Homo sapiens: one gene and its partners. The protein of the gene in region 5 purifies or fractionates together with the protein of the main gene of each other region. This does not show direct contact. Each region holds a gene or a part of one and is shown on either strand. Other genes may lie near its edges.

Evidence for each region.
Region 1: the proteins of NOL4 (region 5) and USP30 purify together in Homo sapiens (affinity purification with mass spectrometry; one large-scale study listed by BioGRID and IntAct). This does not show direct contact.
Region 2: the proteins of NOL4 (region 5) and ZNF195 purify together in Homo sapiens (affinity purification with mass spectrometry; one large-scale study listed by BioGRID and IntAct). This does not show direct contact.
Region 3: the proteins of NOL4 (region 5) and SETX purify together in Homo sapiens (affinity purification with mass spectrometry; one large-scale study listed by BioGRID and IntAct). This does not show direct contact.
Region 4: the proteins of NOL4 (region 5) and ZSWIM9 purify together in Homo sapiens (affinity purification with mass spectrometry; one large-scale study listed by BioGRID and IntAct). This does not show direct contact.
Region 6: the proteins of NOL4 (region 5) and BRIP1 purify together in Homo sapiens (affinity purification with mass spectrometry; one large-scale study listed by BioGRID and IntAct). This does not show direct contact.
Region 7: the proteins of NOL4 (region 5) and ZNF550 purify together in Homo sapiens (affinity purification with mass spectrometry; one large-scale study listed by BioGRID and IntAct). This does not show direct contact.

What each region holds. Positions count from the first base shown.
Region 1 is NC_000012.12:109,068,989-109,073,504, forward strand, and holds part of USP30 (ubiquitin carboxyl-terminal hydrolase 30), read left to right. Parts: intron 1-2,623; coding exon 2,624-2,722; intron 2,723-3,316; coding exon 3,317-3,362; intron 3,363-4,449; coding exon 4,450-4,516. UniProt on the Homo sapiens protein: Deubiquitinating enzyme tethered to the mitochondrial outer membrane that acts as a key inhibitor of mitophagy by counteracting the action of parkin (PRKN): hydrolyzes ubiquitin attached by parkin on target proteins, such as RHOT1/MIRO1 and TOMM20, thereby blocking parkin's ability to drive mitophagy.
Region 2 is NC_000011.10:3,368,642-3,373,157, reverse strand, and holds part of ZNF195 (zinc finger protein 195), read left to right. Parts: intron 1-1,454; coding exon 1,455-1,581; intron 1,582-2,087; coding exon 2,088-2,183; intron 2,184-4,516. UniProt on the Homo sapiens protein: May be involved in transcriptional regulation.
Region 3 is NC_000009.12:132,260,348-132,264,863, reverse strand, and holds the end of SETX (probable helicase senataxin), read left to right. Parts: coding exon 1-625; 3' UTR 626-3,508; downstream 3,509-4,516. UniProt on the Homo sapiens protein: Probable RNA/DNA helicase involved in diverse aspects of RNA metabolism and genomic integrity.
Region 4 is NC_000019.10:48,194,680-48,198,120, forward strand, and holds the end of ZSWIM9 (uncharacterized protein ZSWIM9), read left to right. Parts: coding exon 1-2,148; 3' UTR 2,149-2,941; downstream 2,942-3,441.
Region 5 is NC_000018.10:34,214,413-34,218,928, reverse strand, and holds part of NOL4 (nucleolar protein 4), read left to right. Parts: intron 1-4,516.
Region 6 is NC_000017.11:61,681,121-61,685,581, forward strand, and holds part of BRIP1 (Fanconi anemia group J protein), read right to left. Parts: intron 3,021-4,461; coding exon 2,176-3,020; 3' UTR 1-2,175. UniProt on the Homo sapiens protein: DNA-dependent ATPase and 5'-3' DNA helicase required for the maintenance of chromosomal stability. Acts late in the Fanconi anemia pathway, after FANCD2 ubiquitination.
Region 7 is NC_000019.10:57,552,701-57,557,216, reverse strand, and holds part of ZNF550 (zinc finger protein 550), read left to right. Parts: intron 1-859; coding exon 860-986; intron 987-4,494; coding exon 4,495-4,516. UniProt on the Homo sapiens protein: May be involved in transcriptional regulation.

The DNA of each region.
Region 1 (4,516 bases), on a different chromosome or scaffold from region 5:
CTTGCTTTGTGCAAATTACCTGATTTTATTATCACAATAACCATGTAAGGAATTACTGTTGTCCCCATTTTACAGATGGAAAAACACTGAGGCTCAGAGAAGTGGAATGATTTGCCCAGAATCATGCAGCTATTTAAGGGGCAGAGCCAGGATTTAAGACAGTCTAGTGCTACAGTGCACATTCAAGCTCCCCCTCCTCTGCAGTGCTGTCCCTTTCCTTAAGGCCTAGTTGTTACATGGCTGACCCACGGTTTAGGTTATAGATCCACCTCCATCCTTTCTCGGATCTGCTTCAAGCCTGGGCCCAGATGCCTGGTGTGTGAGGGCTCCTTGAGCCTCCCAGGAAGTGCTGATTCTCCTCCAGGTTCCCTGCTTCCTGTTCATCTGTACAGGGCTGCACCTCTGGTGTGCCGTTGGCTAATAGCTAGGCTGCCACACCTCCCCTGGATTGTGAGTCCCTCAGGGGCTAGAGCCTTGCCTTATTTATCTTTGAATCTCTACTTCCACTCTACAGCTGCAGTTTTATAGCCCAGGAGGGAATTCATTTATATAGGCAACAAGTATTTATTGAATGCCTGCCTGGGGTGGGGACTGTCGAGGGCAATGGAGTCGTAGCAGCAGACATGACTTGCAGGAGTTTCCTGCTCTCTTAGAGCTGGTATTCCAGTGGGGGATGAGGATAGCAGGCAGGGGTCGGTGCAGACAGTAAGCAGGGGATTTCAGGATATGCTAACAAGAAACTAGCTGGTGTAACATGGCATGGATAGGGAGGGCAGAGGAGGAGGAGCCAAGCTACAGGGGGAGACTGCTCCAGGTAGGGAGGCTCCTCTCAGGAGGTGAGGTTTCAGCGGAGACCGGAAGTATAAAAGAGAGTGAAGTGTGTGGACACCTGGGTACAGAGCATTCCAGACAGATGAAGAAGCTAGGGTATAAGTCTGGAGATGGTTATAAAGCTGCCACCTGTGGAGAATGGCAGGGAGGCCAGGGCGGGGAGGGCGGTGGAGGAGAGGGGCTGGCGAAGTTGGCAGGGAGCAGATTGTGCAGGGACTAGGAGGCTGCGGGCGGCATCAGCTTCTATTGTGTTTGCAGCGGGGAGCCACTAGAGGACTTTGAACTGGGGACTGGTTTGATCTGACTTGTTAGAAAAGGAAGGCTGGAGGGGCAAGAATGCAAGCCGAGAGGAAAGGTGGGAGGCCGCTGCAGTTATCTGGCCGAGATGGTGTGGCTCAGACTGGGGTCGAAGCAGGGTAGCTGAGAGTCCTCAGGAATTTAGGGCGTATTTTGGAGGAGGGTCCTTTTTTCAGGACTGCTGCTGAATTGGCTGAGGGTGGGTTAGAGTTCAGAGGGGTGGAGGCAGCTTTGGATAATTGGTTGGGGAGTATGCCCTGTGGAGGAGCTCTTTTGGCAGAGACCTGAAGGATAGGAGGTAGCCGTGCGAAGGTCTGAGCACAGCCCGAAATGGGAATAAGCTGGATATGTTCAAGGAACAGCAAAGAGGCCAGGGGCCGGGACATTGTGAATGTTGGGGGCTTTGTAGGCCAGATAAGAATGGTAGGTTTTACTCTAGTAGTGGAAGCCATTGGAAAGCTAAAAGCAGAAGAGTAAAGCTATCTGCCTTTTAAAGTATTGCTCTGGTGGCAGTGTGAGGGGACACCAAAGGAGAAGCAGAGGGCCTGTGTTGTGACCCCGTTACTCCCGGAAGAGTGAGGGGTGGCTTGGGTTTTTGGGGAGAGAGCCATTTGAGTTGATCCTTCAAGAGTAGTCCCATGCCATTGGATCCAGCAACCCCGCTGCTGGGTACAAACCAAAAGAATTCAAAGCAGGGACTCAGTAGGGTATTTGTATACTCAGGTTAATAGCAGCATGTTCGCAATAGCCAAGGGGTAGAAGCAACCCAAGTGTTCATCGGCTGATAAATAGGTAAACAAAACTTTCATACAATGGAATATTATTCAGCCTTAAAAAGGAAGGAAATTCTGCAGTATGCTACAACATAGGTGAAGCTTGAAGACGTTATGCCGAGGAAAATAAGCCAGTCACAAAGACCAACACTGTATGATTCCACTTGTGTGAGGTTCCCAGAGTAATCAGATTCCTAGAGAGATAAAGAATGGTGGGTGCCAGGGGTTGGGGAAGGGGAAATGGGAAATCAGTGTTTAACAGATATGGAGTTTCAGCTGGGGAAGATGAGAAAGTTCTGAAGATGGATGGCAGTGATGATTGTACAACAACATGAATGTACTTAATGCCACAGAATCATTCATGTTAAGATGATAAATGTTATGATATGTGTATTTTACCACAATTAACAAAAAACATAATCTTTTGAAATCGGAGTGGAGGTCAAGGCTGTCTCAGTGAAACAGAATGGTCTCATAGACTGCTGGCGTGAAGGCAGCCACCTGGCTTTCTCTCCTGCTCTCTGCTCCTGGACCTCTTGCTTGAGGGTCTTCACTCGTGACAGTGTCCAGGACATAACTGTTTTCTTTAATGAGCTGGGCCTTGAGAAGGTAGAAAGCAAATTCTACCCACATTCACTGTAGGGTGTCTGCCCGAGGTGGGTAGTTCTGATCTTGCTCTTGCCTCTTCCAACCTCTCTAAAGAATGCTTTGCCCTATGACAGGATGCTCACGAATTATTCCATGTCATTACCTCGTCATTGGAAGATGAGCGAGACCGCCAGCCTCGGGTCACACATTTGTTTGATGTGCATTCCCTGGAGGTAAACCATTAATATTTCCAACACGTTCTGTGCAGCTTGTGCATATTTAATAAGTATAGGGGAGGCAAGTGTAATCTTTGTACAACTTTAAAAGTAAGATTCAGTAAAAATCAGTGGTGGGAATGAGGCCAGGGGAGGGTCTTAAAACTACATGCTTTGCAGTTGGTGATCTGATTAGGGATGTCAAGGCTCTTTCAAATGATTCATTGCTGCAATTTGTGTTGGCTTTGAGAATAAAGAATGTGTTATTTTTTCCTGTTTAATACAGGGGAACAGGGGCCATAGGAATGCTAAGTGAGCCCTCATTTCCCTGTAACAGTATAAATATCGGAGGAGTTGACAAAAGTTAACCAGTAAGGATGAAAATATTCTGGAGAGAAGAAATATGTTTCTATTGCATTTGATGAAAGAATATTCATAGTATCCAGCCAGATAGGCTAATTGAGGCTACCTTTAGAAACCTGAGCTTTGTTAAAAGTTGATTTTTAGTGGTGTAATCAACGTAGAAACTTGTAAGGTTTAGGGGTGGGGTGAGGGTGGTGAAAGGGATTATAGTAAGGTTTTCAGTCTGTTTTTTTTTTTTCTCCCCTACAGCAGCAGTCAGAAATAACTCCCAAACAAATTACCTGCCGCACAAGAGGTAGCTGTTTTCCATTGAAATATAACACATAAGATGTGGACTTTTAAGATATGATAATAATTTGCTTGTTTTAAAAAGATTTTTTTCTGGTGACATACAGGCCAGCTTGAAGTGTGATGTGCTTGCAAAGGAACTTGTATTTTGGAAATAGCTTTAAATAGATTCTCTTGGTGTTCCCTTGCACCCCAGCCCAGCTGACTTTTCTTGAAACTGGCTTATTTGTACTTCAAACAAGGGCTTTCTTTTTACCTTTTTGAATTGATCCTGGGAAGAACATAATGAGCTGAATCTGTCGTGTCCTCAGCATTTCCAGTGCTGCCAAATTCTATTGCATATTACCACAGTCATCCTTAGGAGGAAATTGTTGTTTTCTTAAGACTTAAAAAATAAGATTAGCATATTAATTCCTCTGTGTAGTAATAGGAACAAATATTTTTTGAGCCCATGCTGTTTGCCAGGCATTGCATTATCTCATTTAAGCCTCATAACAACTCTACAAAGTTGATGATACTGGAGTTAATGGGATAATAACTATCCCAATTTTCCGCACACTGAGGCTTGTAGAGATTAAAGGCATTCCCAGGTCAGGTAGTGAATAAGAAGCACAGCCAGAGCTGATCCCTGGGCTGCACAACTCCAGAGCCCAGGTTTCTCACTTATGTTCTTTCCATTAAACCCCATTCTAGCCAAAGAAAGGCCTAGTTATTCAGAACTTGCTTATTCTGTTTATTTCAGAAGATTTTATCTCGCTTTATGGAATGTTCACTTGTGGTATCCTTCTTTTGACATCTCAAACATTTTAAGCATATGTTTGTAAAAAGACATTATTCAACACAAATTCCTTTTTAAAATGTGGCTCTACCCATTATACAGAAACCGTATATAAAGATAGATCTGTGTAAATTCTCCTATGAAGGAATGGGATGTCTTTTGGATGGAAGTCAATGAGGAAAGCTATTTCAATGTACTTTTCAAGAATATTTTTTCTTAAGAGGTAGTTTCTACCACATGCTAGAAAGGAAGATGAATGTTGAGCTTGGTGCCAAAGGGCTAAAAGTGACATATCAAAAAACTTTTTGCATTCCAGGGTCACCTCACCCTACATCCAATCACTGGAAGTCTCAACATCCTTTTCATGGAAGACTCACTAGTAA
Region 2 (4,516 bases), on a different chromosome or scaffold from region 5:
TTTAAACCAGATGACATTTATCTCTCAGAATAACTCAAAGCATTCTGGAAAAGAGAAAAATGAAAAGACACTTGCTTTTTAGAATGCTAAAGAAAGACTCTTTTAATACACTATTAGAGATTACTGCTGGGCATGGTGGCTCATGCCTATAATCCCAACACTTTGGGAGGCCTAGGTGGGCAGATCGCTTGGGGCCAGGAGTTCGAGACCAGCCTGACCAACATGGTGAAACCCCATCTCTACTAAAAAAATACAAAAATTATCCAAGCGTGGTGGCACATGTGGGTAGTTCCATCTACTCCGGAGGCTGAGGGACGAGAATTGCCTGAACCAGGGAGGCAGAGGTAGCAGTGAGCCGAGATCGCGCCACTGCACTCCAGCCTGGGCTACAGAGTGAGACTCAGTCTCAAGACAAAAGAAAACAGATTACAGAACCTGGGAGATATTTGTCAGAACCTGGGAGATATTTGTCAGAACATAGGAGATATTTATTTGTCAGAACCTGGGAGATATTTATTTGTCAGAACCTGGGAGATATTTGTCAGGACCTGGGAAATATTTGTCAGAACCTGGGAGATATTTGTCAGAACCTGGGAGATATTTATTTGTCTCTTGAACTTTGCATAACACTAAGGTTTCGGTATGATTTGATTCAGATTATAATTGACCTTTTGGCCAATATCACACCAGTAATATGTCCTTCTCTGTGCATTGGCACGTGATAAAAATCTGTCCTATTACAGTTGATATTAGTTTTATTCAGTTGTTTAAAGAGCTCCCTGACAGATTTTCCATTGTGGAGTTTATTTTTTTCTCTTTTAAGTACCTTGAGGAGATTTACTAATTAATGTGCATAAATAATCACATTTAATCTGAAAGGTTTTGCTTCTTAGATTCTTTTTGCATATGCCTTGCTTTAGAAGATGAAGAATCTCATCTCTCTTTATGGTTTAGAAAAACTGGGATAAACCCAAGCTTGCCACTTACAGGATTTTTGACAAAATATTGTCCTTGGGCCCAAAGGACTGGCATCACTGGTGAGCGCGTTAGAAATTCGGAAACTCAGCCTTGACCTCCGATTTCCTGAAGCAAAATCTGCACACTAGTTTATTGGACACATGAAAATTGGAGAGGCAGCTTCTAACTCACCATGACTTTTCTGCCTGCGAAATATACACAGCTTATTCATGTGACGTAAATGTAGCACTCAAAAATGGACATGCCTTTGTTGATGCCCTTAATGTTATACTTGTTATCAACCAGAAAAGTATTGTATATACACTGCTTATGTGGCTCTCAGGCAATTCTCTTTCCTCAGAGTTAGAGAGTATTCTTCTGCTAAGAATTACCTTATTGTATAATTTCAGTCACTTGTGTAAGTCAGAACCAGTTCTCTTCACTCGCTCATTTCACCTCGAATCAAGTATTTGTTATTGTTGTTGTTTCTTCTTCAGACTCTGTTGACGTTCAGGGATGTGGCCATAGAATTCTCCCTGGAGGAGTGGAAATGCCTGGACCTCGCTCAGCAGAATTTGTACAGGGATGTGATGTTGGAGAACTACAGAAACTTGTTCTCCGTTGGTGAGGATAACTTCAATACGTAGTTCCTCCTATGCCCTAAAGAGTTCCTTTCGTTCCTCTGCGGAATGTTTTTTGGGAGTTTCTGCGTTGCATGAATGAGTTTCAGATCCCTGCTTTTAAGAAAAACATGGGGAATAGTTGATGTAAAAAAAAAAAAAATCTTCAAAATGTGGTTCATCTTGACATAAACCTTCCTTTTTTTTCAGCTGATCTGTATCTTTCACTCTAGTGACAATTCCAGAAATTCAGTGGCATGAAATATTGTTGCCCACAACTTAAAGTCAAATTTCCACCACCAATTTTTTATGTCAGCAGTACTGAGTGGTGAAACTAAGAACCCACAGATTTAAAATACTTACTGAATATTCTAAAGGTGATGTCAGGAAGCATAATTTTGGGATTAATTTTCTAGAATCTTATATAATGTTCACTCTACTAAGCACAGTACAAGGTTGATAATTGGAGAATTTCAGCAAGAGTAATGTCACTTTTTTCTAATAAAACAGGTCTCACTGTCTGTAAGCCAGGCCTGATCACCTGCCTGGAGCAACGAAAAGAGCCCTGGAATGTGAAGAGACAGGAGGCAGCAGACGGACATCCAGGTGGGTGGGAATGAACGAAGCAGGTAACCCAGGTGAGAGGTCCAGAGGTCGAGGAGGAAGCCAGACCTTAAAATGTGGTTTGAGAAGCTCTGCCCTAGTGGAGATGGTTTCTGAGAGCCTGGGTGTCTTTCTCTTGCTGTACCCTAGGAGCGTCTTCTGTCTCATTCTCTCAAATTTTGTATAGACTCTGCTTCCTGTTTAGTGATCTTCCTTTATAAAGGTTACAGTAAAAATCAGAGTCCTCCTCCTGACGAGTAAGGGCCTGTGTGGTCTCATGGCGTGCTCCGCCACTGCTTTTGGGAACATGCCTGTACCTGCCTGTTTTTGAGGAACTCTGTTAAATGTTTTTTGATTTCCTTTGCATCATGTCTGAAGTGTGCGAGAGGCGTGGTGATGGTGATTGGTTCAGAAATCCCAGAAGTCCCGTAAACAGATGTTGTATGCTTTCTGCTTTATGATTTCGTATCCTACAGAGGTTTCAAATGGGAGTCTACAGAAATGTATACTCAGCAGTTTTCTCCGAACACTAGGCATCTGCCCAAATATGAGATAATCTAATGTTATTTTACTTCAACATTTTATTTTATTTTTTTTAGTATGAGCTGAGGTTGGTCATTTAAACTTTATATTCCCTAACTCCCAACTGTAATAGTTATAATATTATCATTTTATAATTTCTTCTTTTTTAGTATGAGGCTTATCAGGACTCTGTCATTCATATGTATGTATGTGTGCATATGTATATATGTGTGTATATATGTGTGTATATATGTGTGTGTATATATCATATATGTGTGTATATATAATATATCAACATATCCTTTTGAAATGATAGGATTTCATTCTTTTTTATGCTGGAGTAATATTCTGTTGTCTATTTAAATCATATTTTCTTTATCCATTCATGTATATATACACACACATATATACAGTGTGTCTATGTGGGCATATGTGTAACAGATTATTTTAGAAATAAAAATTGTGTATATATTGTGTACAATGTAATAATTTGATATGTGTATACGTTGTGAAATAATTAGTGCAATCACTTCAAGGAACAAATCTATCACTTCACGTAATTACCTTTTCTTGTAGTGAGAACAGTTAATGTCTACCGTTGGCAAACTTTAAGCATACAAAAGATTATTAATAGTATTCGTGAAGCTACTCATTAGATTCCCCAAACTTACTCATCTTACAACTGAAAGTTTGTACCTTTTGAACAACAGCTCATTTTCCCCAACTCCAGGCCCTGGCAACTGCCATTGTCCTCTGCTCCTGTGAGTTCAGCCACGACAGATTCCACGTCTGAGGGGGAACGTGCAGTCTCTGTCTTTGGGGCCTGGCTGAGTTTATTTAGCAGGATGTCCTTCAGGGTCATCCACGTGGTTGAATGACAGGATTTCATTCCTTTTTTATGGCTGAGTAATATTCTATTGTCTATTTATATCACATTTTCTTTATCCATTCAGCATCCGCAAACGTTTAGCTTGTCTTTATATCTTGACAATTGTGAATAATGCTGCAGTGAACATGAGGGAGCAGATAATTCTTCAAGATGCTGCTTTTATTCCCTTCAGTTATTATATACACAGAAGTGTGATTGCTGCGTTGCAGGGTAGGTTTATCTTTTTCTAACTTTTAAATAACGCCCCCCCACCCTGGTTTTCATAATGACTCTACCAGTTGAGAACTCTGAGCGTTCAGAATTGTTTTTTCTTTACATCCTTATCAACATTGTTAGTAGATTGGCGCAAAAGTAAGAGTATTTCTTACTATTTAGAAGGCAAAAACCACAATTACTTTTGCACAGCCCTAATATGTTACTTATTTTTGATATTAGCCATCCTAGTATCCAAAAGTTTGATTGTAAATTGTCTTTGGTGTCACAAGCTTTTTAGCTTAATGTACTCCATTTTGTTTATATTTACTTTTGTTGCTGTACTTTTGGTGTCGTGTCTAAAAAATGATTGCCAAGACCAATATCAGAGGTTTTCTCTCAGAGTTTTTAAGGATACATGTTTTACATTTTAGGCTTGATTTCAAGTTAATTTTTGAGTATGGTGTAAGAAAAATGGGCTATTTCATTATTTTGATTGCGGGTATTCTGTTTCTCCAGGACCAAGTGTTGAAGAGACTATACTGTCTGTATTGTATCTTCTTCGTGAACTTGTGAAAGATTAGTTAAGTGGATATGCATGAGTTTAATTCTGGGCTCTCTGTTCTGTCCCATTGGTCTCTGCGGCAGTTTTCCTCTCTGTTCGCATACCATCCTGTTCTTACTACTGTAGTCCTAAAATGTCACTTGAAAACAGAAAATATTATGCCTCTTG
Region 3 (4,516 bases), on a different chromosome or scaffold from region 5:
GAGAAGTCTCACTCACCCTCCTACCATAGCCCCAGAGGGGTCCAGACCCCAGGGTGGTTTGCCCAGCAGCAAGCTAGACAGTGGATTTGCCAAGACATCTGTTGCTGCTTCTCTATACCACACACCCTCTGACTCCAAGGAAATTACTCTTACTGTTACTTCAAAGGACCCTGAAAGACCTCCTGTTCATGACCAACTTCAGGACCCACGACTGCTGAAGAGGATGGGCATTGAGGTCAAAGGAGGAATATTCCTTTGGGATCCACAACCCTCGAGCCCCCAGCATCCTGGAGCAACACCTCCTACGGGCGAGCCGGGCTTCCCTGTCGTTCACCAGGACCTGAGCCATATACAGCAGCCCGCTGCTGTAGTGGCTGCTCTGAGCAGCCACAAACCTCCCGTGCGGGGCGAACCTCCAGCTGCCAGTCCCGAGGCTTCCACGTGTCAGAGCAAATGTGATGACCCGGAAGAGGAGCTCTGTCACAGGAGAGAGGCCAGGGCTTTCAGTGAAGGGGAGCAGGAGAAGTGTGGTTCCGAGACCCATCACACCAGGAGGAACTCTAGGTGGGACAAGAGGACACTGGAGCAGGAGGACAGCAGTTCCAAGAAAAGAAAGCTTTTATAGGAAAGCCCAGTGACATGGGCCAGCAGCCACAGCATATTGTAAACTGAAGATGACCAGCTCGTGGGACCATCTAGATAAGCTTGTTTTTTGTAAGGAGTTTGTGTGCTGTTGGAAAACATGGAAAATGCATCCTTAACACCTGAGCCTCTGGTCATCTTCAGTATTTTCTGTCATTTGCAAAAGCTTTCAGAGGGCATTGTGTATCCGTAATAATGTCCTTGAAGTCAGAGACTGGAAATGTTGATCTCTTAGTCTTCTATAGACAAGGAGGTCAGACTGGAGTGAATGTTGTAAAAGTTGAAATGTATATTTGTATAGCAAATAACAAAATCCTTTTAAAATTTAATCTAGTAGACCGCTTTTCTTTCCCCCTGTTTAAAATGTTAATCAGTTTTCAACAGAACAAACTTTATATTACCAAAAAAAAAAAGATGGGAGGAGGGCGGGTCCTTTCAACCATTGTTAGAGCAAGACAGATAATTATTTAACAGCCTAGCTTGGAATAAGCTGAGTTAGTGCTGGTGGGTCAGGTGTCTCTGGCTCTATTAAAAAAAGCAAAAACCCCCCCAAAAACCTGGAGTCTCCTAGGGGACACTTTGGGCAGCACGGTTATGTTAGGTAAAGTCTTGCTGACATGGTGCATTTTTAGATAGAGTGCATTGGCCCAGGGTATTATATTTCTGTGATGAGTTCATTTACCTGTTTCAGTATGCACATAGTTCCCTAGCTAAAATTCCTAATCTTCTTGAGAGAGAAGAATATGGAGTGAAAGAATAATTCTTGAGCTATCATTCAAATGCTCCCAGCATATTGTGAGCCTTGTGTGACTGGTGAGGTACAGACATTTGGTTGCCAAATGCTAGATTAGCGCTGGGTCAGCTGTGGAAGAATCGCCTCAGCTTACAGATTGTCAGACAGATCTAACTAGTTTTCCAGAAAGCCTGGGAAGCTGTGTGTTCAACATTTCCCAAGGGATTCTGATCACCAGGCAGCTTGGGAACCACTGGGGCAGGCCAAATAGAATATTTTGGGCGGGAAAGAAGCACCCGATTTAAAATGAAGCGTAACCAGAGGAGTTCAGAACTGGGAAGAGAGTGGTAGACTTCCTGTGATCTTCAGAAATCATCTACCTGGTAAAAATACATGCTGTTTAGAATATCTGATAGGTGTTTCCAGCTACTATTAGAGGTGATAGTGCTTTTGTGGGGGAAAAAATTGGTCATGGTGAATGGAGATCGAGGAAGCTCGGGACAAGGGAGGGGTGGGCTGCCTGATTTTGTCCAGTTTTCCAAATATCCACGCAGTGAACTGGAGTATCCTAAACATGAGAATGTACAGTTGACAGTTGTAAAAACTAGGGATCTGTAGTGAATGCTGTGCAGCCCCATATCTCATTTGGGGGTAGGAAAATAGCTGAAGATTCATGTGCATTATTTGACATTTCCTTTGTCATCTGCTTTTTAAGCAAAAAAGGGTTTTGTGTTAGAAATTCTACTTGAGCAGATTATAAAGAGCTTTAAAAAACAACTTTCGGTTGCCAAAAGTTTGAGCATTTGATTTCATTACCTGTGTCTCCCTCACTGGTGTCCAGACGGTCAACTGAATACTCCTGAAACCCAGGGAGCAGGTGACTTCCTGGAGTGCTTTGTCCCCAGAGTCAGCCACTGCTTCCTCTGTGGGGGTGGAGAGTTTGTCTTTGGCCATGCAGTGTGCGACAGTTCAGGACGGGTAGGGATGGGTCCCATTCTGTCTGGGTCAAGGGCTCTATCAGCTTCTTCCATGTGCCTTTGGGAAGAAATCTCGTTACTTTAAGTTTGCTTTCCTGTTATCTTGATGAAGTGCCCATTTTAGCAGACACTTGTAGTGCTGACCACTTAGGGAATGTACAAACTCCTAAGCTTCTAAAGGGAGGCATGGCAAAAACGTTGGGGTCAGGATGTCTCTCACGCTGCTCATGTTAATACTATTAACACATGATTTGAGAAATAAGTTTTCTCTAAAATGCATATTTTGCCGCCACACACTGAACAATATTATTTCCAGTGAAGTTTGATGCCTGTTCTTACGTTGTGTTCACCTGTTGGTTCACCACTCAGCAGATCTGATTCTGCAAGAATTAATGGTAGAACTAGATCATCCTTTCTAACAGACGAGCCTGTGTCCTGTGACGGCCTTTCACAGCGGAATGCAGTTGTACCTCACATTACTTTTGAAACTTCACTCGTTCCAGTTGGTACAAGTATTTGCCAAAGCCATTTCCTATGTTCACCGTGGCCCCTCCTGATGTGGCTGTCAGCGCAGCGTTGTTGAACAGGGCTATTCTTTTTACAAGGTGTGAAGTGTGGCTCTTCGCTTCGTCTTTGCCATGGCATTAAAAGAAAGTTCCCTGTCTTCTTTCAATATTAGTTATTTCAAATGAATATGTGCTACTTAAAAGCTTGTTTTGTTTCTTTGTATATAATTTGCCTTGGATTTATTGTGCACAGTTTGTTGAGTTGTATGTTTTTGTGAATTATCAGGAGTAAATTTGACAAGTACATGTGAATAACCTCCTGTAAATGAATTTTATAACAAAAATGTACTGAACTATTTTTTAAAGTTGTGCAGATTAGCAATTTTTTGCTATAGCTTTGACTTTTCTATGCTGTGAATTAATAGCTGCGATTTGGCAAACAGCCCTGTTGTCTTTGTTAAACCCTAAATTTTAAGAGGAAATGGCAGAATTAAAAGCAGAAACAAGAAGATGGACATGGATTAGAGGTTATGTATTATGAAGTAAACTACAAGGTACTAACATCATTTCGTCTGCCATTTGGTTTGCTTTATGCTGAAATTACTTGGTGGGGATTTGTGCAATTCAGATATAAAAAGTTTCATTATCCAGCCCGGCCCTCCTTCCTAGCTCCTTTTGGAATCTTCTCTGTACAGTAATGAGGTGCATTGAGGCCAGCTGTGCTGTTTAGTTACAGACTGAAGTTTGGTCCAACAGAAATATGTGCTGATCATTAGGCTGGAATTGGGGTGGAGGTGAGATAGGAGGAACAGATGAACAGTGACCCGTGAAAGGAGCTGCCAGAAGCACTGGTGGAGGGACAGGGTAGAATTGCCCTTGCCAGGGGTAATTGCTGATGGTTATGGAAGTGGAACACACTTTATAAAACAATAAACTTCAGGAAATGTAGTCAGCTTCCCCACACTTGTGCCTGTTAAAAGGCACTTGACCTCCGCCTCTGTGTCTCCTTCTGTACCCAGAAGTGTGTGCACACAGCCCACTTGGCCTGCTTGGCTTGTTCAGTATGCATACACAAATTACCAGGGAGGGTAAAATGGTGTGTTTGGGACTTAGGGGGAGTAATAAATTTGCCCAATGGCCTGGCGAGAGATGAGTGCTGCATGGTGGTCATTTGTGGAATTGGTTATGCAGCAGCCTTAGTGATGGTTTTTGAAGTCACCAGACATCTCTTTCCTGACCCATCCGCCCCCACAATCGCCCCCACCTCCTGGGTTTCACCATTCATTGAGGAATAAATAATTGAGGGACGAAACTAAAATTTAGCCTCAGCTCAAATAGAATTGATAATGTTGTACAGCACCACAAAGGCAGTTTCTGTACACAAGGGATCCCTCCATGACTCCAAAGACGTGAGTTATCGTCACCCTGTCCTACTACACAGAAGGCATTTGCCAAGTCAAATGGCAGAAATGGCATATTCGTAGTTTGGGTGTTTGAAACTGCAGGAGGAGGAACTCTGTTGCTGTCCTGTCAGCTCAGTAGACACAGTTATCTTTGTTTTCAAGCAGCATTGCAACAGAATTGTCAGATTGGTAGTTTTCAGCCTTGAGTTTTTAACCTTAGGGAGCACATTGGGCTCACTTGGGGGCTTTTAAAAA
Region 4 (3,441 bases), on a different chromosome or scaffold from region 5:
GCTGTGGTGGAGACGGTGTTCTTCCTGACGTCGCGCACCAGGGCGCTGCTGCGGCGCTTCCCTCGCATGCTGCTGGTGGACCGGCTGCCGGGGCTGCAGGGCGCGCTGGATCTGCTGGCCGTGCTGTGCGTGGACGGCTCGGGCCGTGCGCGCCAGGCTGCCTGCTGCGTGGCGCGCCCGGGCACACCGAGCCTGCTGCGCTTCGCGCTCGCGTCGCTGCTGCAGAGCGCGCCAGACGTCAAGGGCCGCGTGCGCTGCCTCACCGCCGGGCCCGAGGTGGCGGCGCAGTTGCCTGCAGTGCGCCAGCTGCTGCCCTGCGCGCGCGTGCAGATCTGCCGCGCGCAGGGCCTGGAGACGCTCTTCAGCAAGGCGCAGGAGCTGGGCGGCGCCGGCCGCGAGGACCCGGGCCTGTGGTCGCGCCTGTGCCGCCTGGCTGGCGCGTCGTCGCCCGCAGCCTACGACGAGGCGCTGGCCGAGCTCCACGCCCACGGCCCAGCCGCCTTCGTGGACTACTTCGAGCGCAACTGGGAGCCCCGCCGCGACATGTGGGTCCGCTTCCGCGCCTTCGAGGCGGCCAGAGACCTGGACGCGTGTGCCCTGGTGCGAGGCCACCGCCGGCGACTGCTGCGTCGTCTCAGCCCCTCGCGTGGCGTGGCGCAGTGCCTTCGCGACCTGGTGGCCATGCAGTGGGCCGACGCGGCCGGGGAGGCGGTGCCCGAGGGGCCCGATGGCGGGGGGCCTTGGCTGGAGGATGAGCCAGGGAGGGGAGCCCAGGGGGAGAACGAGAGGGTGAGGGGCCTGGAGACAGGCGACTGGGGAGGGGCTCCGAAAGAAGGAAGTATTTGGAGGGGAGCCCAGATGGAGAAGGAGTGGGCAAGGGCACTGGAAACCAGAGACTGGGGCGGGGCTCAGTTCGAAGGTGAGAAGGGGAGGGCACTGCAGATCAGAGATTGGAGAGGGGGTCGGTTGGAGAATCAGAAGCCGAGGGGACTGGAAGGGGGTGTCTTGAGAGGGTCGAAGTTAGAGAAAGGGCACCTGAGAGGGCCAGAGATTAGAGACTGGAGGGGGCCCCAGTTGGAGGGTGAGAAAGATTGGGGACTGGAAGGTTATGTCTGGAGGGGGTCCCAGTTGGAGGACCAGGCGCTAAGAGGATTGGAAGGGTATACCTGGAGGGTGGCCCAGCTGGAAGATCGCAGGAGTACCACCGACCTGAGGGGGACCCAGTTTGACTATGAGAGGGTCAGGAGTCTTGAAGGAAGCCCCTGGAGGGGGGCGCAGCTGCACGATGAAAGGGCAGGGGGACTGAGAACTGCAGAATGGAAGGGGCCACAGTCAGAAGTAGAGAAGGGGAGGGGGCTGGAGGTCAGAAACTTGAGGGGGATCCCCTTGGAGAAGTCCCTGGAGTTGGCCCCTGAGAACGGAGACCAAAGGGGACCCCAGTGGGAAGATGAGAGGAGGAGAGGGCCAGAGATTGCAGAGGAGAGGGGAGCGAGGGTGGGGGTCAAAAGAAGAAGGGGCCTGGAGGATATAGTTCTGGTCCAGCTGGGAGACACGAGGGTCACAGGCATGGAGAATGGAGATGGAGGGGGAGCCCGGTCCGTGGGCCCCAAGAGCCGAGCCGGACGAGGGATGGAGTGGGGAGACGCAGGAGGGCGGTGTCTAGGGCTGGGGAATGGAGTCGTGTCTGGCACCCCGGTGGGGACTGTATTGGAAGGCAGCCCAGAATGGGCAGCGGCGAGGAGTGAACACCTGGCTGCAGGTGACGGCCTGCAGGAAGGAGGCGAAGATGGCCCCAGGGAACCAAAGAGGCTTTGCCGACCCCCGGGAGAGGAGGAGGTGGACTGGGAACCCCTGGCCAAATTCCGAGCAGCCTGCGGGCCAGAGCTGGCAGACCTGGTGGCTGAGGAGTTGGCCTTTGCTAGGCAGCATGGGACCCGGGGTTTCCACTGGACCGGAGCTGGCTTTGCCCTTAAGGACGGCACCTCGGACTTCTTCCTGGATGGGGCCCTGACACGCTGCAGCTGCTCAATTCACGCCGCCCGCCGTCTGCCCTGCAGACACCTCTTTGCAGCGCGCCTCCTCACTGGGGCTGCCTTATTCCACATGGACCTGCTCAGGGATTGCTGGGGGAGAGCCCCAGAGCCCTGACCCTTCATGCCTCTGCCCACCACCCTCCACCAGGAGGGTCGGAGGGCATTCTTCGATCCCAAAGATAATAGGGCTGAGGCCAAGGAGACCGTTGCAGTCCCCCTGGCCACCTTCTGGGTCATCCAGGGACCTCCTCATGGCAGTTTGCCTCTCTGGGTCCAAGGGCAAGCTGTAAGTGGTCTCTGAGGTCCTGGAGCCACAGCTTGGGAAGGTGTTGATGGGCAGGGTGGATTCTGAGGGCTTCCCTCTGGAGAGGAAGCATGTGATGAGAGGTGTAGACAGGGTCAGGCTGGGACAGAAGGAAGGAAAGGGGCAGAGCTGGGGGGAGGGGGAGGAAGCGATCATATGGGGAGTGTCTGGCAAGAGTAGACTGGCCAGTCTAGGGAGTGCAGCGGGGAGAGGGGAAAGGGAGAAAGTACAGAAGACAGATGAAGGAGAGGAGGTAAGCGAGAAAAAATGGAAAGGGGAGCCGGAAATGGAGGAGAGAGGACAAGCAAAGAGACAGAAATGAAGACATGAGGAAAAGCTGGGGGAAGCAGGAGAGGAAGGGACGGGATGTAGGAGGGGGAAGAAAAATCGGAGATGAGACAAAAGAAATGTGTGGGAGACGGGTAGAGACGAAATGCAAGGGGCGTGGTTTTGGTTTTTCTCCAAGACCTGGAGACATCGACCCCCATCGCCTTCTGAAGAGAGAGGGAGGGCGGGCACTGGGGGTCAGGAGAGTCTCCAGCAGGGGAGGGGAATTGTTTGGACTATTGTTCTTCAGGATTGGAATAAAACAATCTTATTTTGGTTTCCGTGATGAGTTCTTGGCTTCTGGGGTTGGTTGGGAGTCCCAGATCCAGGGAACAGTTGAGATGGTCCAGCGTTCCTTCATTCTTTCTACCGACAAGGCCTCCTGGGGCCAGATGGATAGAGGAGCCACAATGAATTCATCTCCATAGCAACTCAAGCTTCCTCCTCCATCATCTGGACCAGTGCGTCCCAGTGGCAACTTCTTGACATGAGTCGATTCTACCTTCAAATGACTGACTCATGCCAAATGTCCTGGCCACAGAATGGGCCTGTGACCCAGTCCTGGTCAACGAGTCTGCTCAGGTTGAGGTGGGAGGCTTTTTTATTTTTATATTTTTGTAGAAACAGGGTCTTGCTATGTTACTCAGGCTGGTCTTGGACTCCTCGGCTTAAGCAATCCTCCTGCCACAGCCTCCCAAAGTGCTGGGATTACAGGTGTGAGCCACTGTGCTCAGAACTAGGAAGCTTTTTTTTTTTTTTTTTTGAGTCTTGCTCTGT
Region 5 (4,516 bases):
AATAATACCCCATGAGGAGTCCTGTATACCTTTCCACCTGGCCTAACTTTATGCCTAAGGCACCTATATTAGGCCTTGATCTGGAATCTGCTACAGACCCAGTTATTTATCATGATACTTTGTATCTATGACACAAAGACAAATCATCATAGTGGTCACTGAGATGGAAGCACATTTTTGCTTCTATAGTGGACATTGCTGTTGATAGCCCATGCATTTTTCTTTTCATTAAAGTACTTTGGGAGATCCTGTAGCATAGGATTTGGGGGTCAAATAGATCCCGAGAATGAATATCAGCAATGTGGCTTATTAGCTGACTTAGTGATTCTTTGTGGAGTTGTGAAGAATAAATCATCTATGACAAGTCCCCAGCATAGGTCAGCTCGCAGGGAACAGTGGGGACCAGTAGTAAAGGCCATTCTGGCTTGAGTATTAAGGGGCAGGAGATTTCCTCTGAATATAAAGAGGAAATATGACCCTGTTCGTGTATGAAGACTATCCCACACTTATTTCTTGAGATACCAGTTTTTTATTTTTCCGTTGGTTCTTCCTTGTCCTATTAGTAGCCACAATAGGGAGATGGGGCAAGATTTGGCACTCGTATATATTTCTTCTGTAATCTTCCTTAGTTTGCTGGGATCCTGCTCCCTACGGGTTTACTCTCTAGACTCACTGCATAAGACGGAGGAATGATGAAGTAGAAAATACAGGCATATGGCAGGAGAACTTTCAAGGACTTTAATTTTGTGTCAAGTCTATAAAGACCTTTTCCTAATAGCTGTTGTGTTTGCTAAGACTTTCACTCTTTGTTTTTTGTTTTTTTTTTTTTGGTCTAACTGGGAAAGATGAATGTGAATCTACTATGTTTTAGGTTATATTCATTTTTACAATCTTTATATAACAAGATAAAACAAACTTCATGGATAGCATAGATGGCAAGAAACATGGCATAGTGAGTAGAGTGTTGATTTTACAGCACAATTTAAATCCTGGCTCTGACGTTTACTGGAGTTCTGGGTCGGCTAAAGTTTAACTAAAGATGCAGTTTCCTCTTGTAAAATGTTAGTATTAATACTAGTCTTACTAGTTTTGCATAGTTAGTAGTGTATATAATATATACTAACATATACTATATATGCATATGCACACATATATACACATACATATACACACACATACACACAAGCATGTGGTATATGTAGCATATGCCGGGGACATAGTAAATGCTAAAAAAAAAAGTTGCTTAAAATATGATTCATAGAACATGAAAATCACGATGTAATTATAATTAGGTATATTTTATGAACTCAAAATCACATTGCAACACGGAGCTAAAATACAAGGTCAAGCGCGGTGGCTCATGCCTGTAATCCTAGCATTCTGGGAGGCTGAGGCAGGCGGATTGCCTGAGCTCAGGAGTTTGAGACCAGCCTGGGCAACACAGTGAAACCCCATCTCTACTAAAATACAAAAAAAATTAGCTGGGTGTGGCCATGTGCCCTTGTAGTCCCAGCTACTCGGGAGGCTGAGGCAGGAGAATTGCTTGAACCCGGGAGGCGGAGGTTGCAGTGAGCCGAGATCGCACCATTGCACTCCAGCCTGGGCAACAGAGTGAGACTCCATCTCAAAAAAAATAAATAAATAAAAAAAAAGAAAGAAATACAAGGTATACTTGTATGTATTTATGTACATATGTATTATTAAGATTTATTCTACCTACTCCATTTTTGGAAGAAAAAATGACTGTTATTGTAAAAGTGATACTGTCTCAGTTTTTTAAAAAAGTTAAATGAAAAGGAAAGAAATAAAGAAAAAGTCATACCAAATGTCCCATCAAAATATAATCACCGTAAGCTAATTATGAACATCATTCTAGATTCCTCTCTAGAAATATATGCCAAAAGAAGAGTCGATAAAATGACTGATAGTTGCATATGGACAGGCAGAAATAATTTTCTAAAACTAGGATGATGATGATATGCTAATTTAAGTAAGAATAAGAAAATATAAGATTGTCAATGCGACAAAAGAAGAAATACATAAAATTTAATGAATTGCTAATAGATAAATGTTTCTTCTCAAAGATATTTATTCCTGAAGTTAATGGAAAAGATTAAGAAAAACTTTAAGATGTTGAATTACACTTATTTTACCAATTACAAATTTCCGTTTTATAAGTATTATTGACTTTCTCTAATGATAAATGAGAAGCATATTTTCACTTCTTCCCACCTCCTTGTTTCTTAGATCCTGGTTTACATTTCATTTCACTTATTATATTATACTTATTATATATTATAATTTATTATATTCATTATATTATAATTATGTTTGTGTTGTCAGGGTTGTTGATATTAATGTTAAATTATGTAATTTCATTTTAAACATTATTTTCCTATTTAAATGTTTATTATCTGTTTTGTTATCTGGTTTCCTTTACCTCTGAATTCCTTGATTTGATTGACTCTAATTACAGTTTATCATTTTTTTCCTAAAGTAGGTCCATGCACTCTATTCTTTGAATTTTATATACAATTGAGAGTATTTGTCTTTTACCTTTATCCTTGAAGGACAACTAACCAGATGCAGATTCTGTATTTTACTTTTTCTCTCAGAACATTATAGATATTGTGTGTGCTCTGTAAAATTCTAAGGCAAATTGATTTTCCCAAATTTCATGAATTGTTTACTTCTTTATCCTTGAAATTAAATTATTTTGCTAAGATATATTTGAATTTCTTGTCTAACTCTATATTTTGTCCTGCGTAACTGTGCCCCTGTTTATGACTTCAGTTAGGCCTGTGTTCTGGTGACATAATGTATATCTTCTGAAGTCTAAATCTGTACAGTTGATCCTTGAACAACACAGGTCAGGATTGCCTGGGTCCACTTGTATGTGGATTTTTTTCAATAAGTATTTGGAAAATTTTTGGAAATATATAACAATTTGAAAAAACTCTCAGATAAACTGCATAATCTAGAAATATAAAAAATCTAAGAAAAATATATGCCATGAATGCTTAAAATCTATGCAGGCACTAGTCTATTTATGGCTTAATAGACTATCTTTTTGCTAAGGCTTGCAGTCAACAGTAGACTATTAGTAGTTAAGTTTTGGGGGAGCAAAATTATATGCAGGTTTTCAGGGGCAGAGGGTGTCAGTACACCTAACCCCAGGTTGTTCAAGGGTCAGCTGTATTTTCGATTTTCTATTGGGTGTTTTCACCAAGATATCCCAAAATATCTCAAATTAAGTATGTCTAGAAACACATTTTTCTTCCTTCCATTTTCCCATCCGAGGTCCTCCGAGCTGACACATCTTTTTCTTATTCCCTCTCTCCATGGATAGCAGCACAACTTTACTTACCTGTACAAGGTGAAATTTGTATGGCAGCCTTGATTTCTCCCTCTTATAGTCAATGTTCAACTGTTGGTTGATTCTACTAAACTAATATTTCTTGAAGCCATCAGATTCTCACCATATAATAAAATATGCCTATTGCTTAATAATTTGTTAAATTTCCACAAAACTATTTTGAAGAAAGATTTAATCTCCAGTACCTGGCATAATGGGTGATGCATTTTGATGTTCAGTATTAATGGAATAAATAAAAATCACTTCCCAATCTGACATGACATAATGGGACATTATACAACAGCTTCTTATTTACCACCACACAAGAGCTTTTTAGTTTTATCTACATCTATATCTATCTGTCCAACTGTCCATCCATCCAACTATGTGTTTTAATTGTGATAAAAAAAACACACAACATAAAAGTTACCATATTAATCATTTTACATTGTAGACTTAAGTAGTGTTAAGTATATTCACATTGTCTTGCAACAGATCTCCAGAGCTTTTTCATCTTGCATAACAGAAACTATATTATACAACAGTTCCCCTTTTTCCTTTCTCTCCATCACTTGGTGAAGTGCCATTTTAGTTTCTGATTATATGAATTGAACTACTTTAGATGCCTCATATAAGTGGAATCATACAGAATTTGTCTTTTTATAACTGACTCATTTTACTAGCATAATGTCTTTAAGATTCATCCATGTTATAATTATATGTGACAAGATTTTCCTCCTTTTAAAGGCTGAATAATATTCCATTGTAGGTATATGCCATTTTGTTTGTCCATTCATTAGTTGATGGCCATTTGGATTGCTTGTACTTCTTTTATTGTGAGTAGTGCTGCAATGAACACGAGTGGGCAGATATCTCCTCAAAACCCTACTTTCAATTTTTCTGGATATGTACACAGAAGCAGGTTTGCTGGATCATATGGTAGTTCTAATTTTTTGAGGATCTCCCTACTAATAATAATAATTTGAAACAAAAAGTCCCTTTAATCTTCACAATAGTCCTATGGTATTAACACTTTTTATTATACTTATGTGAAGATTATGGTTTACATTAAGGTGAATTTCTAAAAATCACACAGCTTGGGACAAGAAACCATTTGGATTCTAAGGCCCTTGCTTTAAATCACTGGTTTCCAAATTCTAA
Region 6 (4,461 bases), on a different chromosome or scaffold from region 5:
CGCCCCCACGATTCAATTACCTCCCACTGGGTCCTTCCCACAACACGTCGGGATTATGGGAACTACAATTCAAGATGAGATCTGGCTGGGGACATAGCCAAACCACGTCACCATCGTTCCCTAAATGTAAATGAGTAAGAGCCACTTTACTTTTTAAATGAAATAATATGCTTTATTTTAACCGTTCTGGAACAAAAGCAAATGAAAATCGACTCAGAATATCAACAGACATTCCTTTATAGATTCTCAAAGCACAAAGAAATTTGTATGATTTTATAGTACTAACCGCTGCATTTTACAGATGAAACTAATTCCCTGAAGGGTGTGGTGATTGCCAATATGACTTAGCAAATCAGTGGCAGAGCCAGGTGTAGAGCCCAAGTCTCTTGTCTTCTACCAGGTATTTATTCGTTTCACTACCCTACTATCCCTATCTGTGGTTTAAGAATAATACCAGAGGAGATAAATTGTTTCACCCTTTCAAAACAATGTAAAAATTACCTTCTAATCGAGTATTTGGTATTTACTGCTCAATGATCAACTAGAAAAAATATATAATACTAGATGGGATCTAATATATTCTAAATTCTTTAACTGGTAACTTGTCAATTTAAATGTCTTTGAACTACGCTTAGAGTTGTAACATCAAATGCTATAGAAACAGGCTGTAAAAATCTAAATGTCTCAAAATGGAAGCAAAGACATACCTATATAATGATTCATTTATCCAAATGAAATGTAAAGTAAATCCTTACTGGAAATTTTGACTTGAAAATAATAGACCATACAGAATTCTTGGATAGCTCATAAAATTTCAATTCAAATTACTCACAAAAAGTCCCAATGCCCAGTGAATAACAGATGTTTCTTAAAAAGAGATCAATGAATGTATTTTTGGAATGATGTCAGAGATGAGCCTCTTTTATAATCATTTTTGATTAGACATATAGCTTCATTCACAAAAACACAAACAAGGTCAAAATTCACAGAAAGGATTACTGTGCCCTAAGGAAACATATTTTAGCTGCAGCTATAAATGTGGGTTTGCTTATCAAATTTATATATGAAGTTTTCTATCTTAATCATTGTATAACTAAAGCTTATGCTAGAACAATACCAGAGGGGATAAATTGTTTCACCCTTTCTAAACAATGTAGAAATTACCTTCTAGTCTAGTGTTTGGTACTTATTACTCACTGATCCACTAGGAAAAATATATAATACTAAGCAGGATCTAGTATTTTTTTCCACAATGATGGTGAAGCTAAATAATTAGAATAGAAAATTTGGAATACTTCATTTGGCATTTTATATCTTTACGTCAATTTGTTTATGACATGTTTGGTTTTAGGTTTATTATACAAAGAATGTAAAACAATTTCAATTAAAAATGCATACTACTTTCTTAATTTCTCTTAATTACTTATAAGTAGGCAGTTTAATAACGAAATAAACCTTTCAAGACAAATGGTGATCTCTGAAAAAGTCTTGGACTGATTTGAGGTAAAATCTATAGCGAAATATGACTGAGGTGTCACTAGATTAGACTGCTGTTAATTTTTATGTATCAGTGTGAAAACAAATGGATGAAGAGAACCACCTAATATGAATATTTACGTGAAACTAGAAGTGCCCTAGGATCTTTGAATAATTTTAAATTGCATTTAGCTAAGGAAGACTTATTTGAGGACAGTACTTTGTATGAATTACTTTATCAAAACTCAAGAATGGGCCAGGCACTGTGGCTCACACCTGTAATCCCAGCAACTTAGGGAGGCAGAGAAGGGCAGATCACGAGGCCAGGAGTTCGAGACCAGCCTGGCCAACATGGTGAAACCCCATCTCTACTAAAAATACAAAAACTAGCTGGGCATGGTGGTGCACACCTGTAGTCCCAGCTACTCAGAAGGCTGAGGCAGGAGAATCACTTGAACCTGGAGGTGAAGGTTGCAGTGAGCCCAGAGCACACCACTGCATTCCAGCCTGGGCAACAGACCAAGACTCTGTCTCAAAAAAAAAAACCCAAAAACTCAAGAATAATAACATTTACATTTCTGAACATAAAATAGTTTTTTAAAAAGTATGCCACTTATTCAATTTACAAATTATTACTTACAACAGAGTTTAACATAAGCATGATGACATATTTTTACTTAGCTTGAGAGTTAAGTATTATTACTTAAAACCAGGAAACATGCCTTTATTTTTGGAAGGAGATGGTTTAAAGTTCTTTATTTCTATTTCATGAGTTTTTCCCAGTTCCAGTTCATTTATCCAAGTTGTTTTTACATTACCATCAATGTCATCAATTTTACTTTCTTCAATATGCAGAATTCCATTCAACTTTGTATCTATGCAATCCTCAGCTTTCACTTCTCTGGCTGAATCTACTTCTTTTATAGTTCTAATTTCAAAAAGGTCTTTAGCTAAAATGCAATCTGAATTGTTAGCCAATCTATTTCCTCTATCAGTTTCAGCTAGGTCATTTTTTTCTTCATCTGTATCTTCAGGATCATAAAGTTCAGGTGTAAAATAGATAGATTCATCTTCTGCTTCTGTTTCAAAATCTCTATTTGAAGTGGACTGTTTATCTTCTTCACTTACTAGAGACAATTCAATGTCTGGATCCAGGGCTTCTTCAGAACAGAGCGGATGTTCAGAATGATTTTTTCTAGTAAGGGTGGCATCAATCTTTAATGATGAAATAATGGTTTCTGATTGAGGGCATGATCCAAACGATGTGTTTACTGTCAGATTTGAGGATTCACATTTATCAGTGAAGGGCAAAACAGTTTTACTTTCCATCTTCTCTGTTTTGAAACGGGGAGGACTAGAGGCACTATTCTCTGATGACCCGAGCTCAGGTGTTGCCTTCGGTATTTTACCAGTAAAATACTGTCCCAAAGAATTAAAGCTTGACCAGCTAACTCTCTTTGTTTGTTTGTTGAAAGTTGGGCTTGTGGATCTGGAAATCACAATTTTTTCTGCTTTCCCTGCTTCTTCCAGGAATACTGGATCATCTAAGAATACAAGAATTTAAGAGATTTAACTTTCTGCTCCTAGCTAACATAATTGCTAGGTTAAAATAATTATTTATTAGAAATACCTAAATAACTGTATAGGATACATAACTTAGAGCCCCCAACGAATACTAGTGGATTTTCATCTTGGAACAGAATATTAACTCTGAAAGAAATCTTAGGTCTCTAATGTTTCCTAGCCCAAGTTATAATGCTGTCTGGTAAACTATCAAATTCCACAGCAGGGAGCTCAAGAATGAATGAGGAAAGAAGGGGTAAAAGGGAAGAGGAAGGGAGCTGAGGAAAGGAGGGAACAGGCTGTAAACATTTGCCTTGAAAATCCACTAACCAGTGACTGAGAAAAACTTACCTAGACTAATTCTTTTATTTAATAAATAAGGAAAGTGACATAAGGCTAAGTTATTTGCTCAAAGTTATAAAACTGGTTAGTAAGAAGACCAAGACTAGAAACTAGGTTTCCTGATTACCAAGTTAATCGGCTTGAATTCACTATTTATAGTGAATTTTGTATTACTATTTTGTAGTATTTATATACAAAATTGTATTACTATTTTGTAGTACTTATATACTACAAAATACATGTTTAAAAATTGATGTTTTTCTTTTTTTTAGTCCGAGTTTTGCTTTTGTTGCCCAGGCTGGAGTGCAATGGCGCAATCCTGGCTCACTGCAACCTCCACCTCCCAGTTCAAGCAATTCTCCTGCCTCAGCCTCCTGAGTAGCTGGGATTACAGACAGCTGCCTCCACACCCAGCTAATTTTTGTATTTTTTTAGTAGAGACGGTGTTTCACCACACTGGTCAGGCTGGTCTCGGACTCCTGACCTCGGATGATCCACCCGCCTTGGATATATGAATTAAAACAACTGAAATTATATCCAATGGAATAGACCAGAGTTTGGCAAACCTTTTCTGTCATAGGCCAGATAGTAATATTTAGGCTTTGTGGAGCATAATGTATCTGTTGCGACTACTCAATTATGCTGTTCTAGTGCAATACACACAAATACTCAACTCTGCTGTTGTTTCTAAAATGTAAATAAATGGGCATGACTACATTTCATTAAACTTTATTTACAAAAACAGGCAGCAGGCCAAATTTGGCCCATGGGCCACAGTTTGCCAATCTGATACAGATGATTATTTCAAAATATTTTAAAATATTATTTTTCATCACTTAAAATAAATGTCTCTCACCTCCTAAAAATAAGTTCATAAGAACTATCTATATAGGAAAAGTAGTTCATATAGAAGTATCTACATAAAAATTAGGCCAAATTTTTATATAGCCTTTAGAATAACATCTACCACTTACATGGTACTTTACAATGCTGTGATATTTATAATTTTGACCTTTACAACCCAACCTGAAGGGATAGCTAGGCAGGCATTTTTTTTTTCCTATTACGACTCAAAAAGGA
Region 7 (4,516 bases), on a different chromosome or scaffold from region 5:
GGACAAGCAGGAGACAGATGCCTTCCTCTTATCTCAACTGCAAAGAGGCCTTCCTCTTTCATGAATCCTCGTCAGCACAGACCCTTTATGGGTGTCGGGCTGAGGGAAGGTAAGGTCTTTCCCTTCCCACGAGGCCACATCTCAGGCTGTCTCAGTGGGGGGAAACCTTGGACAATACCCAGGCTTTCTCGGGCAGAGGTCCCTGTGGCCTTCCGCAGTGCATTGTGTCCCTGGGTACCCGAGACGGGAGAATGGCGATGACTTTTACCAAGCATACTGCCTGCAAACACATGTTTACCAAGGCACATCCTGCACAGCCCTAACTCCATTAAACCTTGAGTCAATACAGCACATGTTTCTGTGAGCACAGGGTTGGGGCTAGGGTTACAGATTAACAGCATCTCAAGGCAGAAGAATTTTTCTTAGTACAGATCAAAATGGAGTTTCTTATGTCTTCCTTTTTCTACATAGACACAGTAACGGTCTGATCTATTTTTCTTTCCCCCACACTTAGCTGCTGCTGTTGCTGTTATTGTGGTTGGATTAGTATCAGTCATTTTCCTCCATTCTTTTAATATGCCAGAGTACTTACTCTCTGCTTCCCATAGTCCTCGTGGGATTGCCATTGTTTGTGTCATCTTCAACAGCTTCCCCATAGAAGGCTTTTCTCTCAGGCACAATTGCATTGTCAAAAGGCAGTATCTGCCTCCCCTTTGAGCCCTGCACGGAAGTCAGCCCAAAGGAGACCTAGTTGATTCAGACCTGGATCTCTCTGCACATTGACTAGAGACTGAGTGACAGGTTCTGATCCTATGCGACAACACAAGGCCAATAGCATTACTTCTGTTTGACTTTCCAGATGTTGGTGACCTTCAAGGATGTGGCTGTGACCTTTACCCGGGAGGAGTGGAGACAGCTGGACCTGGCCCAGAGGACCCTGTACCGAGAGGTGATGCTGGAGACCTGTGGGCTTCTGGTTTCACTAGGTAATGACTCACCTCTCATCCCTGAGGAGGACCCTAACCCTGATTCTTGGCCAGGCAAAAAGGTCACTGGAACTGCCCACCTTTCTCTTGACAGACCTTTCTGTTCCCACCTCTTCCTGACTGGTCTCCCTTTGTCTGCATCAGAGATTGTCGGGGTAGAAAATGTCCTTTTAACACAAACCCTCACTCCAGTGCTCAGCCCATTCTGAGGTCCTTAATCAAGATTGCATAAGAAGGAAGCTGATTGGCCATCCTGGTGGGGTCAGCTGTGGCCACAGCCCTATTAAGCAGGGGCCATGGGTGATGGGCTGTTCTTAGAGAAAGGGGTGAGTCAGGCAGCCCCCCAGAAGACATTTGTCCTCAGTGCCCCTCGGATATCTTCCTAAGCAATACAATCTCTGTAAAAAGGCATCTGGGTGCCTGCATGGTCATTAGTTGTTTTCTGATGCTTGATATCCATGCTCTGTTGATCCAGGAGGTGTTTTTAGAGGGTACACAGGAATGTCCTCAAATGGCATGGTTTGATACCCTGATAAAGCCATTCCTTTTACTTTCTCTGTCCAGCACGCTAATTCTTGTCATAAAAGTCTCATCAGCTGGGTGTGGTGGCTCACGCCTGTAATCCCAGCACTTTGGGAGGCCGAGGCGGGTGGATCACGAGGTCAGGAGTTCAATACCAACCTGGCCAAGATGGTGAAACCCCGTCTGTACTAAAAATACAAAAATTAGCTGGGCGCAGTGGTGCGCGCCTGTAATCCCAGCTACTCAGGAGTTTGAAGCAGGAGAATCGCTTGAACCTGGGAGGCGGAGGTTGCAGTGAGCCAACATTGCGCCAGTGCATTCTAGCCTGGGTGACTGAGCAAGACTCCGGCTCAAAAAAAAAGAAAAGTCTCAGATCAGCGCTGAGTCTTTCATTTTCCTTTCACTCCCCCAGTGCAGTTCATTTCTTTTTTTTAACAGAGGGGACAACCTCCAACTTAGCCCTAAGAAACATACAAGGGTTTCCTGGGACTTAGTGGCATTGTTTTGATTTTGTTGTGTTGTGATTGCAGACTTCTATTTGTAGGAAGGGAAATTGACTTTCTCACTTACCAGAGCAAAACAAGGTTCCCTTTTAGAATACAATATTTAACAAAAGTGGGTCAGGATAAAGAAGTTATTAGAATTGATGGCACACTCTGAGTTCAGTTGGGAAGGTGGACATCAATCCATAGATGACAACTGAAATAAGTTCTAGAAAGAAAAATGAGGGGAATTTAGGAATAAATAAGCAGGATGTCATAACCTATTGTGGGAGTTCCAAAGAGGGCATCTCAGGAAGTGACAGTGGAGCTGAGACCTGAAAGCTGAGTAGGAGTTAGCTGGATAGAAGGAGGTGGAAGAGGGTAACAGTGTTCCAGGTGGAGGAACCAGCGTGTGAAAAGTGACAGGGAGCTCAGCTCTTGGGAGAGCCAAAGGATCATCTGATTCACCTTTCCCACAGCCCTGTCCCAGAACTCAAAGCCAGGCATGTAGCACACATTGGTGGACCTTACTGTGACATGTCTGAAGGAATCCTGGGCTATGGTTCAGAATCTGCCAGTCGATGTTTCTGTGGATCCTTGTACCTCAGTCATTGGTCTTCTATACAGAATCCTCCTGTCTTTTACTCACCACATCTAGTGGAAAGCATTTGGCTGCATATAACAGAAAACCAGATCAAACTGGCTTCACCTGGAAGGAAATTCACTAACTCGCCTGATGAGAAGCCTGAGGTGTGGTTGGCTCCAGGCTTGTTCGGTGCCGCAGCCCAGTGACGCCATCAAGGATGTCTTGGTTCTCTGTTCCTTCTTCTTGGTTCAGGCTTCTGATTGTCCTCAGGCTGGCTCCTCATAGGGATGCTGGGTGCTGCAGCCTTGACTGGGGCAGCAGGCCCCCATGTTCAATCCATCCTCCCACCTTGGAATAAATGCTTTCTTTTCACAATGAGAATCCAGCTTTGGTCACCTGCCTAATGAAGACTCTTGCATTACCAATTTATTTCAACCACTGGTTTTTCTTTTCCTTTTTTTTTGAGATGGAGTCTTGCTCTGTCATTCAGGCTGAAGTGCAGTGCCATGATCTCAGCTCACTGCAGCCTCTGCTTCCTAGGCTCAAGCAATCCTCCCAACCTCATCCCCTTGAGTAGCTAGGACCATAGGTGCACACCACCATACCTGGCTAATTTTTTATATTTTTGGTAGAGACGGGGTTTCACCATGTTGGCCAGGCTGGTTTAGAACTCCTGGCCTCAAGTGATCCTCCTGCCTCGGCCTCCTATAGTGCTGGGATTACAGCATGAGCCACCATGTCCAGCCTCAGCCAGTGGTTTGCAGCCCCATCTGGGCACCAGAATTTTGGGGGGCACATTTTGGAAGTACTGATGCCCAGGTCTCACACGAAGAAATTTTGTTTCATTTGGTTTGAGGTTGGAATCACGCATCCCCAAGTGGTTCTGAAAGCACGAGGTGTTTGAGAAGCAATGATTTAGATTTGTTAGAAAATGCCTCCTGGGGCCGGGTGCAGTAGCACCTTGGGAGACTGAGGCAGGAGGATCACTTGAGGCCAGGCACTCGAGACCAGCCTGACCAATATTGTGAATCCCAGTCTCTATTAAAAATACAAAAACTAGCCAGGCATGGTTTTGCATGCCTGTAATCCCTGCTACTCGGGTGGCTGAGGCACGAGAATCCCTTGAACCTGGGAGGCAGAGGTTGCAGTGAGCCGAGCACTGCACTCCAGCCTGGGCAACAGAGTGAGACTCTGTTTCAAAAAAAGAAAGAAAGAAAGAAAGAAAATGCCTTCTGGAGGAAGCAGCACACCTTTGCCGTGTCCCATGGCTGTCAAAGTGTTGTGTGCCTGAACAACGTTGGCTTCCATAGACGGAGGTCATGGGCAGTGGGTGTTGTGTAGACAGATAGCACTACCCTCCATGGCAGTTGTAGCCCAACAGTGGGATTTGTGCCTGTCTTTTATCTCCTTGGCTGCCATAATAAAATGTCATGGATTGGGTGGTTTAAACAACGAGAGTTTATTTTCTTATGCTTCTGGAGGCTGAGAAGTCCAAGATCAAGGTGTCGGCAAATTTGATTCCTATTGAGACCTCTCTTCCTGGCTTGCAGATGGCTGACTTGCTGTGTTCTTACAAGGTGGAGGGACAGAGGAGAGATCTCTCTCTGTTTTTATGAGGCCATAATTTTATCAGATTAAGGCTCCACCCTTGTGGCCTCATTTAATTTTAATTACCTTCTAAAGATCCTGTCTCCATATACAGTCACGTTGGGTGTTAGGGCATCAACATATGATTTTTATGGGGAACACAGCTCACTCAGAGCAATGCCCTTGATTTTCAGGGCTCACATCAGCATTTTGCTTACTTTGGGAGCAGCTGCATTCATGTCTGGACCCTGTCATGAAGTCCTAGGCAAGATGGAGAGACTTTCATTTTCTCATTAAATTACCCCTATTCTATTTCTTTTGCTATCAACAGGGCATCGGGTTCCCAAACCAGA